Linked DNA regions of Homo sapiens: region 2 is linked to region 1. Evidence: fine-mapped expression QTL. Tissue or cell type: whole blood. Region 1 holds a variant in brackets; the other region holds the start of a gene. All regions are shown on one strand. Distances are between the middles of the regions.

The links. PIP is the estimated chance that this variant, and not a neighbour inherited with it, causes the effect.
Region 2: FAM24B starts here. The variant in region 1 is fine-mapped to the expression of FAM24B in whole blood (TOPMed, PIP 0.94).

Annotation. Positions count from the first base shown.
Region 1 is chr10:122,845,513-122,855,678 of GRCh38, reverse strand. FAM24B (family with sequence similarity 24 member B) reads left to right here. Exons shown (of 4, transcript NM_152644.3): 2 at 1-34; 3 at 5,129-5,255; 4 at 6,240-6,601. The coding sequence starts at 5,164. The coding sequence ends at 6,432. FAM24B-CUZD1 (FAM24B-CUZD1 readthrough) reads left to right here. Exons shown (of 11, transcript NR_037915.1): 2 at 1-34; 3 at 9,459-9,917. CUZD1 (CUB and zona pellucida like domains 1) reads left to right here and starts at 9,822. Exons shown (of 9, transcript NM_022034.6): 1 at 9,822-9,917. The coding sequence starts at 9,836. RefSeq lists enhancers at 692-986, 8,085-8,966, 9,033-9,532, 9,533-10,034 and a silencer at 692-986. The variant C/T (reference allele first, on the strand shown) is at 5,168.
Region 2 is chr10:122,875,288-122,885,453 of GRCh38, reverse strand. FAM24B (family with sequence similarity 24 member B) reads left to right here and starts at 5,873. Exons shown (of 4, transcript NM_152644.3): 1 at 5,873-5,969. FAM24B-CUZD1 (FAM24B-CUZD1 readthrough) reads left to right here and starts at 5,813. Exons shown (of 11, transcript NR_037915.1): 1 at 5,813-5,969. It also overlaps the pseudogene C10orf88B. RefSeq lists a silencer at 531-661 and enhancers at 8,624-9,143, 9,144-9,664.

The sequences.
Region 1 (10,166 bases):
CCTTCCTGGAGCAGAGGAGCCATTATTTATGCAGGTAAAATAAGATGAACTGTTACTTCTCTTGAATCATGTGAGTATGAGAAGAATGCCTCCCAAGAAATGAGAGGTTGATTTGACAGACTCAGTCTTGTCACATTTTGTGGAAGTTAAGCCTGTGAGTTAGAGGGCAAATCCCAGAGCCCAGTGCGTGGCAGATTGTGATCTTCCTCATCGTGCCTGCACCGCCGGGGGATCTGCATGGATCACCTAGACAGGCACTGATAAGGTAGAACATGGTAATTCATCACTAAGTTTGCAGTTTTTTCTCTTTGGTTCTTTTAAAACTGATTTTACAGTCATAAAGTTTGGTGAGGGAAAGACTGGATGGGAATTTCGGAGATGGGAAGAGAGGTGTAATCTGGTTCTGGGACGTATAGTAAAATGTGCCATTTGGATTTTACAAAGACACAGAAACTGTCTTCAAACCTTGGCAGTTCATAAAATCCGATTGCATATTGTTCACCACAATCTTTATTTCTCTGAGAATAAAAGATTCAGTTAAGGAGATCCTCTCTCTGGGGCAAAACCCAACTCTTCTCATGGCATTTGCCAGGGCCATAGCAAGGTCCCCATCTGCACCAAGAGTCTGAAGGTAAAGATAAGTTTCCCGGGAGCGGAGCAGAAGGAGCTGTGGAGGAGGCACAGAGATGGGAACTGGGTCAAGTAGGGAGCTCACAGGCTTATGTAGTTTTGGATCCAGGATGCTTCTGTCACCAGAGATGCAATTTAGCAGGCATCGGGGTGTTTGCACCATTTGTTAGTGGTTAGTCACAGGTGTTAGTCACAGGATGGGCAGTTCGCAAATAACTGACTTGGGTGAAAGTCCTTGTGGATGTGTATTACAGAGAATTTCCATAGAGAAAAGGCCAGCCCCTGTATTGGGAATCGCATTTTGCAAAGTTGAACTCACTGATTCTGAGCACAGTTGCTGCCTACCTTTTGCCATCTGGAACACATGGCCCCATCCCTCTCAATACTCTTAAGCAGTCACCACATGTGAATCATCAGTGAGATATTGCTTCGAATGAAAACATCAACACAAAAATCAGCCCCTTCCTTAAATGAAATGCAACGGGATTTATTTGCAGATCTTTCAGCTGACAGCCAAAATCATGGCCTTTGAATAATAGAGTTGGGGGACTGGGAATGGGGAACAACACATCATTTCAGAAGGTTCAGGAAGGCTGGGGGTGGAAGAGCATTGGACTTGGGAAGCAGGAGATGGAGGGAAGGATTATAGAACTAGGTCCTAGTTTCTTTGCTGCCAGTGACTTGCTGTGTGACCCAAGGGAGTCACTTCCACTCTCTGAGCTTTAGTTTCCTCATCTTTCAAACAGAGGTTTTAGTTGTTGCCTCCTGGTTGCCTTCATTGCAACTCAGAAAGATATTACTAAAACACATTGGAAGTAGTTAAATGTTGGTGACTTACAAGCAATGTAGAAAGTATGCATTCTTTTTAATAAATGAAATAATATTGGTCAGGGTTTAACTGCTATGTCTGAGTCACTGCACTGTCTAAATTTAGAGGCTCAGTCAGAAAAAGTGAGTACCAGACTGACAAAATTCAGATTTCAGTCATTGATCATAACATGTGCCAGCACCTAATAGGTTCTAGGTTCTCTGATACCTAGGGTTGCAGAGCTCCTGCCCCCACAGAGCTCACAGACACCTTGAAAAAGCAAACTTTAAATGCACAAGCCCACAGACTATCAAACAGCAATCAGGTAACCACAGAAATAGAGGGAAACCGAGAGATGAAGTAGTCACCCCCATGGGGAGGGTCCACAGGGCCTAGCTCCTTAATGATGACTAAGCTTATTTAGGGTTATATCCCTCTGAACCCAAGTAGGGACTACAGACATCTGCTACCACACCTGGCTAATTTATTTTCACTTTCATTTTTAAAATTTTTTGTAGAGATGGGGTCTCACCATATTGCCAAGGCTGATCTCAAACTCCTGAGCTCAATCCAATCCTCTTGCCCTACCCTTCCAAAGTGCTGGGATTACAGGCATGAACCACTACACCTAGTCAACAATTCAAATTTCCATATAGGCACAAACAAAGGGCATGGATACATAGGGAGAGGAGCAATTAACACGGGAGGGAGAGAGGTGGAAATCAGTGAAGGTTTTATAAGGACATGGCATTTTATTGAAGTCTTGCAGGATTGGTGTTTCAGCAGATAGAGGAGGCGAGGGACAGGGAGGGCCATCTAACCAGGTCACAGGCATGAAAATACATGGGGTGTGGGATAATGGAGAGGGAGATGAGGCTGGAAAGATGTTATGTTGAGATATGGGCTGGATAACACATGCGAAGGGCCCAGGGTACAAAATGTAAGGAAACACTCATTTTCAGGATTGAGCAAGTGTAGGGTTGGTGCAGAGGCTGTGGCTTTTAAGCAGAGGACTGATTTAAAAATTTCCCATATAGGGGACTTCCACTTATGGGAAGAGATACTTTTTCTTATTCTTCCTAAGTACAACTAAAATCCATGGACATTATATATAAAACAAACATAAGACTTGAATAGGTGGAGAGAAGAAGGAAGGCTAGCTAGGGACCTTGGGATCAAAGTAATAGCATGGTAGTGAGTTCCCTAAGTTTTGCTTTTTGTCTCGGATTCCTAAACTTGGAGCTGAAGAAGTGAGCAACTTGGAAACACCAATGGGTTCAGACAAAAGAGCCCCACCAAGAAACTGGTTTTTCTGGCCAAAAGACCAGGAAATGGGCAACTCAACAAGACAGAAAACTTTTAGACAATAGCTTCTGCATTCTAGGCAAACACCATAGAAAAAGCTATGGCCCTATCCCAACTCCACCAGCGAAGACTGAGTAGAGAGCCTAGATGTCTACTGTTACCAAGCTGTAAAGAAGTGTCCCAAAGCACCCCTCCACCAGGGTGGTGTCAGAGAAGGCTGAATAAAGAGCAGAGACTCACCTCTGACCCCTGTGGTATCAGTGGAGACCCCTTGGGGAGTCTGGATTTCTTCTCTGACTCAATAGATAATGGGGCAACTTTCCACTTAACTTCTGGGGTGGCATCAGAGGAGGCCTGGTGAAATTTCATGACTTTTATTATCTCGCAGTGGTAATAAGGCCACCTCCACTGCAGTGTCAGTGGAGACTAAAACAGAAAGGAATTTTCCTGTTGTCTTCATTATAAGAACCTGGTGAGTTCCTGGAGATATGACTCATGAATGTGTGCCCCCACCCAACAAAACAAAACAAAACAAAATTGGGCCCTCAGGAGTTTTTAAATATTCCGCTAGTCCCTATTCATCATCCAGGAAGACATCAGTTACCATGTAAGTGTTCTTACCAGTTGCTGGCTCTGGCAATGGCTTCTGCTCCTAAGCTGGGATTCTCTGTATTCACCTCTCTCTTTAGTTTTGGGGGTGGCTGTTTGCCCTGTGACTTCAATTTTCTGGTTGACTTAAGAGTTGTTGATTCAGCTTTTATTCAGCCACTTTATTCAGCTTTTTACTTGTTGTGAGGATGGGAATGATGACTCCCAAGCCCTTCACATGTTTGTGCAGAAACCAGAAGTCCTGTGTTCACTTTTACCCATTTTTTTTTCTTTCTGTATTGCAGTTTGGATAATCTCAACTATCTTCAAGTTCACTGATTCTTCTGTCAATCCCAATCTGCTATGAAAGCCCTTCTAGTGAATTTTTCATTTCAGTTATTGTAGTTTCCAATGACATAATTTCTATTTGGTTATTTTGATAATTTTTATCTTTATTGGTATTTTTTATGATGAGACATTATTCTCATATTTTCCTTTAGTTTTTTGGACATGGATTCCTTTGAACATATTTAAAAGACTTTAAAAGTATTTTCTAGTAGGGCCAATGTCTGGGCTTCTTCCAGAAACAGTTTTTATTTATTGCTCCCCCACTCCTTTATGGGCCATACTTTCTTATAGGCTTTTTTGAAAACTGGACATTTAAAATAATATAACATAGCATCTCTGGGAATCAGACTCTTAACTAAAACTTTTCTCTGAGGGAAACAAAGCCTGAAAAGGGGAGATTGAGTATTCCATGGCTTAAGAGAGTATTTAGGCATATCTACTTCCATTGGTGCTAAAATATATCTGGAAGTGGAATGGAATTCAGAACTCCATGAAAGAGAGCTGGTGTCCAGAGCGTTGATGTCACACAGCGTGTGTCCTGATTGGCACAGAAGTTGGAACTAGATTGTGGATATCCATTCTGCTAGCTCTGCTGGAAGACTGCTTCTAAAAGCAAGCTCTTCAACTTTGGATGTTAATCATTAGAATTTTCTTTCTCAAATTAAAGGTTTGAGAAATTCGTGATGAGATGTCCTGTTCCCTAAAGTTTACTTTGATTGTAATTTTTTTTTACTGTTGGCTTTCATCCAGCCATGAGGAGTTAGAAGGTGGTAAGTATGCTTTGGCAATCAGATTGTTTATTCTTCTCCCCTGACTCACTTTTTCCCAGTTTCAGAAAGTTAAACTAATTTATTATCTCAAATTGGATTTCTTGGGAGAATTTAAGATTTAGGAGGAAAAATGCCAGTTGTCAGAGGAAGAATTGTAAAGTTCTTTTCCTAAAACATGCATCATTTACAAAATGGATTTGCATATTCTCAGTATTGTTGGGACAGTAACATTTGGAAACAGTCATTTCCACAGAAGAGCTTTGAGCCTGATATCCAGTGGGGGGTCATTTCTGACTCTGAAAATGAGTATAGCTCAGGAGGCCCAGGTGCTGGGGAGTGACGCCATCAGCTCCACTGCAGGCCTGCTTGTTATTTCCAGCCGCATATCACACCTGTGAAAGGGAAAGATTCTTCCCACTGTTTGTCCTTCTGATAGCCTTCTCTCTGGACTTTGCATTTCCATTCCTTTTCATTGACAAACTGACTTTTTTTATTTCTTTTTTTCCATCTCTGGGCCAGCTTGGGATCCTAGGCCGCCCTGGGAAGACATTTGTGTTTTACACACATAAGGATCTGTGTTTGGGGTTTCTTCTTCCTCCCCTGACATTGGCATTGCTTAGTGGTTGTGTGGGGAGGGAGACCACGTGGGCTCAGTGCTTGCTTGCACTTATCTGCCTAGGTACATCGAAGTCTTTTGACCTCCATACAGTGATTATGC[C/T]TGTCATCGCTGGTGGTATCCTGGCGGCCTTGCTCCTGCTGATAGTTGTCGTGCTCTGTCTTTACTTCAAAATACACAACGCGCTAAAGTGAGTCACAAGTTCAAAATAAACAACGTACTAAAGTGAGTCACATGGGGAAAAGGGGATAGCACTTCCTCAGTGGGATACCTGGGCTTCCTGTTGGAGCAAGGTCATTCCTTGCTGCTGTGGCCATACCCTGGGTGAAGTCAAGAAGAACAGGCAGCTTTGTAAAAGCAAAGACAGCTGAGTGTAGAATCTTATTTTTTTTCTTCCTGGCTGGGGTTGGTAGAATGTTCTCAGCTTTGGCCTGTGAGTGTCAGCGCTGCTTGGCTGTCACTGGACCTCACTAAGTTTACCATCAGGTGTTTAATTCAGCACCTTGGCCAAGACTCCCTCTGTCCTGGGCACTGTAGGCTGCAGATTCTGTGGGGGAGGCTGCATGAACGAGCTCTGCCTTGTGCTCATGTGGAGGACGGGCTGGATTGATCTCTTCTTGCCTGAATTGGGAGCTCTCAGGATATTCCTCCATTTGTTTCTGGAGGCCTTGGGGAAAATGACTGGGGCTCTAGATCTCAGGGACAGCTGAACCGTGTGAAAAACCTGGGGAACAGTGGACAAGGGAGGGTAGGTCAGATAAGATTGCATTTTGGGGAGAAGACCCTTTAAGTACCAGAGAGATTGGTTGTCAGATGCAATTGTGTCCCCATTCTAAGGAGTTCACAATGGCACATCCCGGAGCCTGGGACACAGCCAAATGCAGCACCTTCCCATCATTCCTGCATCTCGGGGGCCTGCAGTGACCAGTTGGGTGACCTTGCTTGCAAAATCACTCACTCTTGCTTTTGTAACCTCAGTTTACATTTATAGCAATCATAGAAGAGGAAAGGATTCGAGAGGAACTTGGGATGGGGGAGAGAGCTTTAATGTAGGGCTGGTGTTCATGTTTGACTGGCTTCAGCACTAAACTCCCCAGATACCCCCCAACAGTTCTAACAAAAGGGCTGAGAAGAAAAATTCTAAGCCTGTGCTTTGTGTGTGTCTTTTCTCAAGAGCTGCAAAGGAACCTGAAGCTGTGGCTGTAAAAAATCACAACCCAGACAAGGTGTGGTGGGCCAAGAACAGCCAGGCCAAAACCATTGCCACGGAGTCTTGTCCTGCCCTGCAGTGCTGTGAAGGATATAGAATGTGTGCCAGTTTTGATTCCCTGCCACCTTGCTGTTGCGACATAAATGAGGGCCTCTGAGTTAGGAAAGGTGGGCACAAAAATCTTCATGAGCAATACTTCTTAGTAGATTGTTTTGTTATTCAAATCAAGTTCTAGTGTTTTTATGTGAGATTATATAATTTACAGTGTTGTTTTATATACTTTTGAATAAATGTACACTATTAAAAATAATCCTCTTTGCTGCCAATATTTTTTGATTGTTGATTATAAACATCCTTTGTTTAAATATATTTATTACTCACTTTGGAATGTGGGGGGGGATTAGCTTGTAGCATTGCAATAGAAGAAAGAGAATTGGAATAAAAGTGTCCAGCACATCTCCCACCCGAGAAGGAAAATGCACACTGTTCTTAGGACACTTCCAATTTCAGCCCAGCTGATCTTGTCCAGCTGGAGTCGCTCGTTTAGCTCTCGTGAGGGCTTGGATGGTTGACATCCACCGCAGAAAATGGTGTCATGTCCTGATACCTGTCCTGTTGTCCTGTCCATTTATCCAAGACAGTGAGAGGAGCCAGGCAGGACCTCCCTGTGTTAAAGTTGTCTGACCTGTGTAAGATAGGCCTGAGCTCAGTGACCTCAAAAGGACCTTTTGAAAACCAGTTTCTTCCTACTGCAATCCCCAAATCTCCAGAGCATGTGGCTCCTGCGTGGATTACGGTAACAGTGATGTGTGTTGATCCAGCCATCAACATCTTCAACTGTAACACGAACCACCAGCCAAAGGCCAAAGCCCAGACTCCCTGACCACAACAGCAGGTGGCAGGAAGCACTCCTCCCCACTTTACTCCCAGCTGCCTTCTGTTCCAGCTCCTGCCCCTGAGCCTCCTGGAACCCCTTTCTAAGCATGATTCCCTATCTGTAACCGCCATGTCCACTCCTCTCATGAACTAAACCCTTGCTTGTGACCATCACATGTATACTGAATGTAAAGAATTATTAGCTAGTAACAGGTGGTAATCTACTAAAAGGGGGTAAAAAGGAAAACAGAAGTCGCAAATGAAGGAAACAGCTGTGACAGCTAGGCACAGAAACAGGCCAGATGTGGGTGGAGGAGCTGCCTGTAGACGCCGAGCACCTCCTGGAGGCTGAGCCTCCAGCCCCAGCATGCTTGGGAAGAGGCCAAGTCAGGGCAGCCTCCAGCTGGAGGTCACCTGTCCCCCTTAAGTTTCCGGGCACTGTCTCTGTCCCCTGCCTTTGATTTTCTCTTGTCACCAGCCAGCTCTGACAGATGGAGCACATACAAATCCCCTCTTACCCCACCCAGTGGGTGGCCCAGTGCCTGGATCCAGGACGCCTGTGCCAGGGCCTCCCCATGTGGGTGACTATACCTGGTGCAGGTATTGCGGGGGCCGTGAGGGAGGTGGGACAAAGGTCTTCAGGACACCCCCATTAGCAGGAGGACAGAGCACCGCACATGGGCTTTAGAGCCCTATGGAGCCGGTTCCCATCCCAATTCGGCCTTCACCAGGGGAAGTCCCTTGACTCATCTGAGCCTCTGTGTCCTTGATGTGAAGTGCGGACTTGCACAGGTGACAGAGAAGAAGCAATGAGATGATGCAGGGTGACCCCACAGCACCCCGTGGTCCCCAGGAAGTTGCCAGAGGCCTGAAGGGGGCTTCTCTCCTGACTGGATCTGGAAGCCTGGGTCCTTTGCCAGGGCCACCTAACAGAGTGTGGCCATGAAACTCTCGCACTCAGTGGAGATGGATTAGGGATGTTGGAGATCCCAGCCATGGGTGACAAAGAGGGGTTCAGAGGGAAAGCCCAGGGTGGGAGTGGGTATCCATGGACACAGCTGCAAGCGCTTAGTAACCAGAAGGGTCCCCCATCTCAAACACCTGTGGCCTGCTAACTCACCCCAGGACACCCAGTCCTGCCTCATCCACAGCCAGCCCGGGCAGATAGGAATGGAGCAGAGCAAGGCAGGGGCCTTGGGGTATGTCCAAGCTCCTCCTGAGCATCCCAGGTGCTGCCTTTCCCCTGCAAGGGTCCAACGAGGAATGGATCCCCTGGGTCACAACGTAGGACTGTGCTCTCCCTAGGGAGGCCTCCTGGGCTGCAGCACAGTCAGAACAACACAGAGGGGCTGACGGTAGCCAGAGGGTTTCACCCTAGGAGACTTAGCCTACACGAGCGTCAGACCTCCCCAGAGCTGCACAAAGGTTCTTCAGAAAGTAGCCAGTCCTGGCATTGTCCACTCAATATGTTCCACCTGAACTTAGAGTGAAAACCAGACTCATTTGCCCTATGGGTCCTTCCCCATCTGACCTTCACCTGCTCCTCTCCATCCTCCCCTCCCAGCTCACTCCTCCCACTCATGACCAGCCAGGCTGTTCTTTATTCCCTACTATTGTAGGTGTGCCCACCTGGTCTCTGCCTCGGGGCCTGTGCACTTGCCCTCTCTTTTGCCTAAGATGCAGCCCCCAAGCTCAGATCACCCATGAATGCCTCCCTCTTGTCTTTCTGCCTTTGTTCAGATTTCATCTCTCAAGATGCCCTCCTTCTCACTGTCATATTTCCTCCCCACCCCAAGGCAACCACCATCTATGCAGTCATCCTGTTTATTGTATCCTTAGCTCCTCTCACCAGTTGAATTCTTCATTTATTTTTGTTGTTTAACTCTCCACTTAGAATACAAGTTTCATGAGGGCAGGACTGTGTCTCTCACATTCAATTCTATATTGCTTAGGCCCTAGATCAATAAGTAATGTTTACTGACTGAATGAATGAAAAGAGGGCAGCCCCCACCCACCACCACTTGCTCCTCCCAATCTCAATGTGGACACTAGGATTTCTTTCTCTCAACTGCAAAACACCGTGCCCGAGAGACTAATTCACCTGCTTCAGTCTCTCCAGACATAACTGGTTAGAAATCGCTGTGGGGGAATCTGGATCTGCACTCTTTTTCTCTTCATCCTCTACCCTCTTCCCCTCCCCCACAGGGTCAGCCACCTGGCAGGGCATCTGAATGTCCCAGCTGGACCCAGATTTTGCCCAGGTGCTGCACCCCCTGCCTTGCCCCACAGGCCTTTGTTCTCCCACAGGCTCCCTTCTCAAAGCAGAGCCCTGAAGACTTCAATGATGTCAATGAGGCCACCTGTTTGTGATGTGCAGGCACAGAAGAAAGGCACAGCTCCCCATCAGTTTCATGGAAAATAACTCAGTGCCTGCTGGGAACCAGCTGCTGGAGATCCCTACAGAGAGCTTCCACTGGGGGCAACCCTTCCAGGAAGGAGTTGGGGAGAGAGAACCCTCACTGTGGGGAATGCTGATAAACCAGTCACACAGCTGCTCTATTCTCACACAAATCTACCCCTTGCGTGGCTGGAACTGACGTTTCCCTGGAGGTGTCCAGAAAGCTGATGTAACACAGAGCCTATAAAAGCTGTCGGTCCTTAAGGCTGCCCAGCGCCTTGCCAAAATGGAGCTTGTAAGAAGGCTCATGCCATTGACCCTCTTAATTCTCTCCTGTTTGGCGGAGCTGACAATGGCGGAGGCTGAAGGTAAGAAAATTGAACCAGATTTATTCACCAAAACAGAGAAGTTCTTCTCTTAAGAGGCCTCTTTCAAAATTTTTCAAAGTGTTTATATCTGTTGGCCCCAGTTCAGAGAAAAATGTACTCTAATGCTCTTGGAGGGGATTTTAAATTAGTTCTAATTTTATTTGGCTCATCTGACAATGTCCATAAAAATATCAAAAGTGTATAGAATTTTACTGAGTAATTTACTGCTAAGAGTTTATGTTTTGGAAA
Region 2 (10,166 bases), 30 kb before region 1:
ACCTGACATCAAATCCTTTCTCTTGCTACTCTATCCCTCTGCTACCTTCTACATTTCTGGTTCCTTTTTCCTCTCCCTGTATCTGTACAAATGCAGCTATTCTCCAAGGATCTTTCTTCCTTGCTTCAGTCCCTCTCTTCACCACACTCCATCAGCTACTGTGGATACACCTCTAAACTTCCCTTCCAGCCACTTAAGGTTCATTCCATTTCTCCTAATCCTCTGTTTTCAGATGTTTGCAACATCCTCCCAGGGAATGTTTTATTCACAGCTAAAACTCAATATTCCAAAAACTAAACTTTTCTTCCCCCCAAGCATCCTCCTTCCTTGGGTTGAATTTAGATTATTTGTATTGCCATCCTTAAAGCCTCAATTTCACATTTGACTCTATTTTTCTCCCACAACACCAATATTAAGTTAGTTGTAAAGTCCCAACAGCTCCATTGTTTTAGCATTTCACCATACAGCATCATGTTACTATGTTCAATCTTAGACCCTCATTCTCGCTCATCTGGATGAGGGGAATAACGTGTAGCTGGTCTTCTCCTTGTAGTCTCACTTTCTTTTGATTTACCTTACACATGACAGTGGAAATACTTACAAATTTAAAGTAGCACTCAGACAGGGTGTGGTGGCTCATGCTGTAATCTTAGCACTTTGGGAGGCCAATGCGGGTGGATCACTTGAAGTCTGGAGTTTGAGACCAGCCTGGCCAACATGGTGAAACCCCGTCTTTACTAAAAATACAAAAAAAATTAGCCAGGTGTGGTGGCAGGCACCTGTAATCCCAACTACTAGGGAGGCTGAGGTGGGAGAATCGCTTGAACTTGGGAGGCAGAGGTTTCAGTGAGCCGTGGTCGTGCCACTGCACTCCAGCCTGAGCAACAGAGCGAGATTCCATCTCAAAAAATAAGTGAAGTAGCATTCAAAGCTCTCACTATGACCTAGCTGAAATCTACTTTAAACTTCCCCTATTCCCCTTCTGCTTCAGAGAAATGAACTACTACTCATTTCTCAGCTACATCCAATTCTTTTAGCATTGAAGATTTTATTCAGCCTATTTTTTGTCTGAATTGGCCTTCTTCCAAATTTACTTGCCTAATCCTGTCCTTTAAAGGCCTAGATAAAAATACCACTTCCTTTAGTGAGCCTTTCCTAATCTTCTTCATCCCTCCCCATTTATATGTCCTAGAATGTAAATCCTTAAAGACAAATTATAAACTGATATCTTTGCATCATGAAATGTACCCAAACTAGTGCCTTGTTCACTAAGAAGGTGCTTAATAAATACTTGCTGAATGAATGTGTGAATGAATTCATGAAAAAGTGTGAAGATTTGTAGTCAAAATATTTTGTAGGAGGGCAAGTCTATGAAATGTTATTTTTTACACAAGTAAATAAAGATAACAGTTAAATCAATTACAAAATTTCAAAGAAAAAATTTACATCACTACATGTATTTATAAAAAGCCATTACTTATAATTTTTAATGGTATCTGGAAAGTCATCCATTTCTACTTACCCACTGCTGAAACCTAACCATATTAATCAATTGCTGAGCTCCAGGAGATAACTTTGACCCCATGGACTCCATTATGGTTTGGATCCTGTCTAGTTCTATTCTTGATTTTACAGCAGGAGAGCCTGTTGAATAATTTGCTGAAACTGCTCTCATGTGTATCACAACTTTACTGATGAACACACACTGTCTTTCACCAAAGGAGCGCAACTATTACAATACAAAGTTCAGGAAAATAAATAATAATATTAAACAATATTCACTATTTAAGGTCACTCCTTTGTATTATCAACAAGAGTAAAGTATTCAGGAAAACAAATATAAACTTTAAATATATTTTCAAGTTTTCCCTAATACAGTAATGGTCAGAGGTTTCAATTTATTATGAAACTCAGAAGAACAATTTATATAAGACAATGTCATTTTCAAACTAAAAAAATATACTAAATATATGAAAGAAGGTAAAATTAAAGTTTCATTTATTTAAGCAACTCAGAATAGACTATGCCAATCTGAGACTTTAACACACAGCTGCTTACTATAATATTCTTTAATACAAAATAAGGGTGTTCAGAAGCCCATCCAAAGTGTTTACTGAATTACTAAATATAAATGAGCCATTTAGAATTATAAGGCAGGGTCAAGATGGTCTCACGTAACCCACTGGTTTACACATTTAAAAAGATGAAGTTAGAGGTAATTTTCTAACTTGTCAAAGGATTACCCAATTAGTAAAAGTCAGGCTTAGAACCTAGCTCTCCTGGCTGTTATAACAGTGCCCTCTCCAATGCTTTATGCTGCCTCTCTTCATTCATGTTTATGAACCAAAAGACATTTCATGTGTGGCACCAAAAACAGTATCAAAATGGAAAGGAAACAGGATTTAGAATGAGATAAACCAGAGTTCAGTTATGAGTCTGCTCTGTATAGCCTGTATGATCCTGGACAAATGCCAAAACACAAATCAGAATTAACATGAGGGAGGATCATATCAGTGATTTCACATGGTGGTTGGGATTATGTGCTAAAATTTCCAATGAGTAAGTATTTGAAAATATTCATCAGTAACTATTTTTGTAACTTTCATATTCTGCTGCCTCAGAATAAGCTTTAGTAGGCTTGGGATTTTCCTAAATGAAATGACCCTTTGCACTCACATATACTTCCATAGAATAGTTACAAAAAATACTCATCTTCAGAGAGACACACAGAACCATATGTAACCCAAAGACACAGGTCAATTCAGACCCATGGCACCAAAGATGTGACCATCCTTCACAATTAAGAAAACACTGTTAAATTTAAACAGTCGCCTCTCATCCTCTCTCTTATCCCCTTTCTGCTTCTTAATCCTTATAGCCTTTCTCACCACCAAACAAAACACAATTTTATTCAGAGTGTGCTCATTACCTGTCTCATCCCATTTGAATATAAGCAACACAAGGGTAGTTGCTCCATTTTATTACTGCTGCTTCCTAAATGCCTACTACAGTCTGTATCTGGTATCAGTAGGCACTCAAATATTTGTTGAATAAATCACTTTATTTAAATGACTTTGGAAGCGATTAATATATACTACCTAAAACAATGTCTTGGAACAATCTGATCTGTAAGTTTGTTACTTGCCTGCTATAAAAATCATTAACTTTTTCCTTATTCTTTTTATTTTTTTCTCTTTTTTGAGACAGAGTCTCCTTATGCCACCCAGGCTGGTCTCAAACTCCTGGGCTCAAGGGATCACCCTGCCTCGGCCTCCCAAAGTGCTAGGATTACAGGCATGAGCCACCATGCCCGGCCAACTTTTTCCTTAAAGTAAGTCTCACAACCCTGTATAATGTGGAGACAAAAAGAATACAATGCTTTATTTTCTTTAGTCTTCTAATTTACCCATGAGGTAGGTCCAAAGAAATGTAGAGATTTTCCCAAGGTCACTCAGGCAGTAACTAACAGAACTGCATTAATACCTTGGGCTATTTGTAGCTCAGTACTCTTAACTCTGATGACATCACTAAAGTTCACCTCAACAATATTTTTCATATTCAGGGTACCAGTCCAAATAGCTTTTAGGTGCTTTTCTCTGCAACTTCTCTAATTCTTGTCTTTTTAAACATAATGGGGACAAAACGTGGTTTTCTTGGCACCATAGTTTCATATAAAGATAAACAAGGACTAAGTTGGACTAACTGTATGAACAAACCAACAGTACATAAGTATATTATACATACATTTGCAATTGTCAAATTAGTTAAAATTTAGTGATGACCTACCTTTATTTTACAGGCATGAGTGGAGGATGCCAATATTAAGTAATTTTTGTAGAAAATAATTTCGCGTTTACTGAAAATAGAATAAAAATTATTTTTTCACTTATATAAATTATCAGTTTAAACAGCTGCAGTAAAAAAAAATTGTTTCCAGGCCATTACTTAAATCCTGAGATTCAGTTTGCCTGGTAGGGGACAAACAGTTGAGATCCCTTCTCAAGTGACCTGGTCAATAACCCTGTGTCGTGTATTTATTATTTCCAATATGCACAATATGTAAAATAGTTGACGTTTTGATTTATATTAAGGCGCGATTAGTGTAGAATGTTCCTATAAGGGACTAGGGAAAAGATCAAACTATAACACATTGAATATGGACTAAATAGGCTGGTGTGGCACCACCTTGGGCTTGTAGGTTCCTTAAAAAATATGTGATCAAAGTTTCAGACTGACTGTCAAATTAATTTCTGGAAAACAGACCATTGTGAGTTTATGGAGAGAGTCAAGAAGCAGCAATAAGGACTGCACTCTTGCCTGGACACTTTAACTAGTATGACCCTCTCCAGGCTCACCTCTCCTTTATTAGCTCTAAATTTCTGCATTCCTAAAAATGAGGAAGCTGAACTAGATTGCCTAGAAGATGCTTTAATGGTCTAACCTTCTATGCCATAGTAGGTTTTTATCTTCTCTTCTCTAATGTAAACATCAATGTCAGAGAGTCAATCAATATTGCAAAAGGTGAACAGAATAAAGACACCAATTCAGGAGAACACTTTCCCGTGTACAAGTCACACAACTGTCATCCAAGACAGTACAAACATTCTTGCCCCTACTGGTTCCACAGTACTCCTCTCCTAAGTACACTTCCATATTTCTTGCTGAACTTAAAATGCCAATAGAAGCGATTTCTTCACCTCCATCAGGGCCACACCTCAGGTAAAGGAAGCAGGGGTTTTCATCTTGGTTGTTCAATCTTCTCTTCTAAATCACCAGATTCTGGCTGAGAAGAAAACAGGTGAAAACATCACACAGTATAGTTTCTGAACATGGCTCAAAACCCACTTGTTAGGCCATGAGGTTTATTCTAACAAATGCTCAACACAGAATTCATAAGGAAATGGAGGCATCACACATCAGGGCTTCCCCCTCTATTTTTTCCTCAATCATCAACGTTCTACTCAGTCCCCTGCAATTGATTCTCGGATACATTACTGGACACCTACTGTGTGCACAGGAGTAGGAGCAGAACACAATAGAAGACAAAGTGTATCTTTTTCGAAATTAAGTCGACGGCGGTCGTCTATAGCTGGACTTTTTACACAGCCTGTTTTGGTGGAGAGGAGGTGGCTTGTTTGAGGGTAGATGGGCGGACTGACTTTGATAGCAGCCCTGACGACCCGTCACGCCTGACGGGGACGTTTATGAAATTCCAAGTCCTGGTCACCTTCCCCCGCTCATGCCTCGGGGCCTCGGGTACTTCCCGGCCAGACCTACCCCGCCTCCGCCCACCCCGGTCCTCGCCTCCACCTCGCAGCCCCGCTCCCCCGCAGAGACCCGACACCAACTGCTCTCCTGGATCCCGGACTCAGACCCTCACGTTCCCCGAGGAGCGCGGCAGTCGCCGAGCGCAGCGACCCGGTCGCCGGCGGCCCGGCGCACCGTGGCGCAGGTGGCGCCAGAAGCTCCTCCCAGTCGAAGTCGCGGGCGCAGACACGAGCCCGGGTGAGGAGGCTGTGAGTTAGGGCCCCGCCTGCGGCATCCCAGGAAGAGGCAAGCGTGGGGCGGCGGGTGAGGCCCCCGTCCTCGGACCGCGTGTCCACTGCGCCGCCTCCTGCCAGGCCTCTCTTCCAGTGCTTAAGTGTCGGCCAGTGCAGCGCAGAAACGGGCAGGCAGAGCGACTCCCGGCTTACATCATTTCAAATGCCCGCCGCTTCTGGATTTGGTGAGAACCTGCACCAGAGAAACGCATGCGCATAAGCCAACTGGACTCGAGAGGCGTTCAAACTTTGCTCAGGAAGCGCTAAAGAGCGGAGCATGCGCACTGGCAGGCCCTCGCTCAGCCTTTGGAGACCATGCGCAGGCGCGGTGCACTGTGCGCGGGCACCACGGCGGTTTTTCGACGCTGGCGGTGGACGCAGGCAGCATGGACCACGGTTGCTGGGCGGATGGGGAGCGTCTATGGTCAGGTAGGTGTCGTCTCTTCGCTCTACGCGATGTGCAGGACCGACTCCTGACCTCGTTCTTTCCCGAGTGGACGCCAGGGCCTTTTCTGCCTCCACTCCGTCGGGTCTGCAGCATTTGTGGCAGCGAACGCGGCGGAAGCGCTGTCCATTCGGGTTAATTTTACTCCGAACTCTCCCTGCCTCTCTCATACACATTCTCGCGTTAGAGGGGAGTTGAGGTAGATATTGAACGGCGTTAGTGGTGGACGCTGGGCCACACGGGCCTTCCCCAGGTGCCATCTCATTTGATGCTCCCTGATCCTACGGCGTTGCCAGGACTATGCTGGATGCCCTCGTGACAGAAATCAGAAGGTTGAGAAAGATCCCAGGTGTTTGGATGGAGCGGTCGCCTGAGGGAGTTTTCCAGATGCCCCATGGAATAGGAAGTAGATCTTGCCTCTTTCTTCCTTTTGTACTCCAGATGCATTCTAAGTTGTGTACACCAGACTTCCTGTTCTTTATGCCCAGCCCATTGTAGTCATAAGTTAACTTTGATACATGTCATCATAATTGGACAGTCTAAAGGAAAATAGGCTTTTTAGAATTACCTATCTGAAACTTCATGAGCAAGATCAATACTATAAGCTGGATTTTGACTTCCTTAAATAAGGCAGAAAGCCTACAGCATTTTGTCGTCTCCCCTTTCTTTCAATCTCGTATGTTCAGTATTATCACCCAGTCTTGTTTTATTTTTGGTTTTTAAAGAAAAACTTCCCTGTCTTTCTCCATCTCTGCCTCTCTGTTTTGAAATACTAGCTTTCATCGGAACAATTCCAGGAGTTTCTTTACTGGTTGATAGTCATTATCTCCTCACCTGCGTTTCATTTTCTGCACTGCCCTCTAATCTTTTATCAATTGTCCTGATGCTTGATGCTTTCTGACTGAATCACCATCACCATTACTTTTTTTTTTCTTTTGAGATGGAGTTTCAGTCTGTCACCCAGGCTGGAGTACAGTGGTGTGATCTCGGCTCCTGCAACTTCCGCCTCTTGGGTTCAAGCGATTCTCCTGCCTCAGCCTTCTGAGTAGCTGGGACTACAGGCGTGCACCACCAGGCCCAGCTAATTTTTGTATTTTTAGGAGAGACAGGGTTTTGCCATGTTGGCCAGGCTGGTCTCAAACTCCTGGCTTCAAGTGATCCGCCCGCCTCGGCTCCCAAAAGTGCTGGGATTACAAGCGTGAGCCACCGCACCTGGCCACCATTACTTCTTAACAGGCATACAAAGCCCTTTATCCTTGACTTCTGCCTGCCTCCTAGACCCCCCAGCTTTTGTACATGCTTTTCCCTCTACCTAGAATGCCCCTTCTTTTGGATAGGAAAAATCCTGTTCATCATTTAGTGCCAAGCACAGCCCTCCACACTGTGAGAGAATTTGTCAGTAATTTCTCTCTGCTACACTTAGAGTTTTTAGATACTATAATTCTCTTCTGGTATGGAGCTTTACCAAATAATTCTCACATTTGTTTTCCCAACCATCTGTACAGTTGTTGAAAATAGGAATTGTTTTGTGCCTAGTAGAGATTGAGTATAGGTTTGTTGTATGGAATTGATAGAGATAGCAATAGGGGTTGTTTGGGAACTCTATCACAGTATAACAGGAGTAGAAAGAGGTGAAACTGGCAAATTCAATCTTATTTTCAAAGCTGAAAAAACTTTGCAAAAGTTAGTGAGAAAATTATGACAGTGAAAGAGATCTGAGCTAATCCATCCCCAGTCTTGCCTTGATTATTCTTGGGCTTTTGGGACATTTAGGCTATAGTTTAAATTATCATAGGCCTTCCCCCAAACTCAACTGCTTTTGCATCAGGCTGGCAGGAGGAGAGGAGCCTGGGTCCTGCTAAGGTGCAGACATGAACTATTATCAGTTATTATTCAGAAGGTTATAAGATATGCAACTTCCCCAATTATTCCTGCAGATAACACCACTATTGTAGACTGGCCTTTTGAGATATCTTTTCAGGGTTTTTTTGCATGTCTGACACCCACCATTCCTACAGCCCCACCCAGAAGTGACTCAATGTGCAAGAGGACAGCTTCACCCCTTGTGATTTCATCTCTGCCCCAACTAATCAGCAGCAAGCCTAGCGACCTCCACCACTTCCCCCAAACTGCCTCTGAAAAATCCCTAACCTATAAGCTTTGGATGAGAATTGTGGCTGGCCTTATGTCTATTAAACTCTTTCTTTACTACAATGCCATGATCTTTGTGTAGCAGGCAGGAAGAACCCTTCAGATGGTTACAAAGCCAGGGTGTTGTGCTGGTGCCTAGGTGACCTCAATTTTAATGTAAATTACTCTTGTCGTGAATGGCAAATGGTATTTTTTGCTTTATTTTTATTTTTTCACTTGAAATAAAGAATAAGGCATATCTTTGAAATCTTTCCACCAATATCACAATGTATTTTTTTGGCTTGACTGTTTTAAAGAGAAGTTTATTATATATAACTTGTAGAATTTAGAGTAGAATCATATATGTATCTACTGTTGCTAACAGAGTGCCTTTGCATAGTGGCAATCAAACACTTTAGTCCCAGGACCTTTTACCCTCAAAATATTGAATATTCTAGAAAGCTTTTGTTTTTGTGTGCTCTTTTCTTATTTTTTAACACTTCTGGTTTCATCTGTGACACGTAAACCACTTAGAAGTCAATCACAACTGTCCTCACAAGAAAAAAGCTGAACAAATGGAACATTAACAGCCTTTAAAATATCCATCAGATAATGGAGGTCACAAAGCAAATGGCCACCCCCAAACTGGGTAGGCAAATACAGAAAATCACAACTGATATCAGCATGCTAGGAACAGAAATCCTCATGAGGCAGCAAATGGTAGGAACACTTAAAATGGTCATTGATGACTTGCTGGATGCTGAGTGTGAGTTAGCTTGACAGTTAGAAACTCCTGGGAGACCACTCATATGGTGCCCTTACACTTTTGGGAGTTTTACTTTTCAGAGCTGCAGCAGATTCTTAGGACAAGGATTGGATTAAAACTCCCTCCTGCTTTGTGCAGAAGGAGGGGGCAAAGTAACCTTTTTGAAAACTGCCCTCAGCATTTCCCTAACAAAAGCCTTCTCTCAAGGGAAAGTACTTTACCAGAGCCTTATCTGTTCTAGGGAAAGGGCAATTAGAAGATTCCAGCCCCCTCTAGCCTTCCCGTTGTTAGTGGTAGTGAATCTGCAGGGGGCTGCAGCAACCTCAATTCTTGTCAGAAGAAAGAATTCGACCAAGGGTCATAAGGAAGAGTGAGAGACCAAGGCAAGTTTTAGGGCAAAAGGAAAAATTTATTTAAAAGCTTTAGAGGTGGAACAAAAGGAAGTAAAAGTACACTTGGAAGAGGGCCAAGCAAGCGCCTTGAGAGATCAAGTGCGTGGTTGGACCTTTGATTTTGGGTCTTACATGTTGACATGCTTCCAGGGTTGCATTATTTCTTGCTAATTCTTCCCTCAGGGTGGGCTGTCTGCATGCTCAGTGGCGTGCCAGCACTAGGGCGGGGCTGTATGCATAGTGTGTTTACTGGAGTTGTATGCATGCTCACTTGAAGCATTCTTCTCTTACCCATCAAATGTTCTTAGAAGGTCATATACCAGTTAAACTCTGCCATTTTGCCTCTTAGTGCACATGCTTGAACCCACTTGTCCAACTCCTGAGATCTTATCGGCAAGCCGTTGATCACCAGTTTCAGGGTTTTTTTTTTTAATTAGGAGACTGCCTTTCCCTAGTGCCAGCTGTGACCAATTATTATCAGACTACATTTTATTTAAAAGGAGTCTCTGGGGATACCCAAAGACAATGACAATGTGGAAACTCAAAGCAAGAATAGTAGATTGAAGCCTCTGACACTGATAACTACAGCAAACATTAAACACAGCCTAACTTCTAGTCAGATTGACATGAATCAAGTAGCCTGATTACCTCAGTTTCTATATATTCTTCCAGATATATTATGTCTGGCTTTCAACAAAGATTTACAAAGCACGGTAAAAGGCAAGAAAGAACAAGAAACAAAGGAAATATCAGAACCATTCTTACATATGATGCAGATTTTGTAATTCTCAAGTAGGGAATTTAAGGTAGCTATGATTGATATATAAGGGCTCTAATGGAAAAAGCAGATAGCATACAAGAGTGAATGGGTAATGTAAGCAGAGATATGGAAA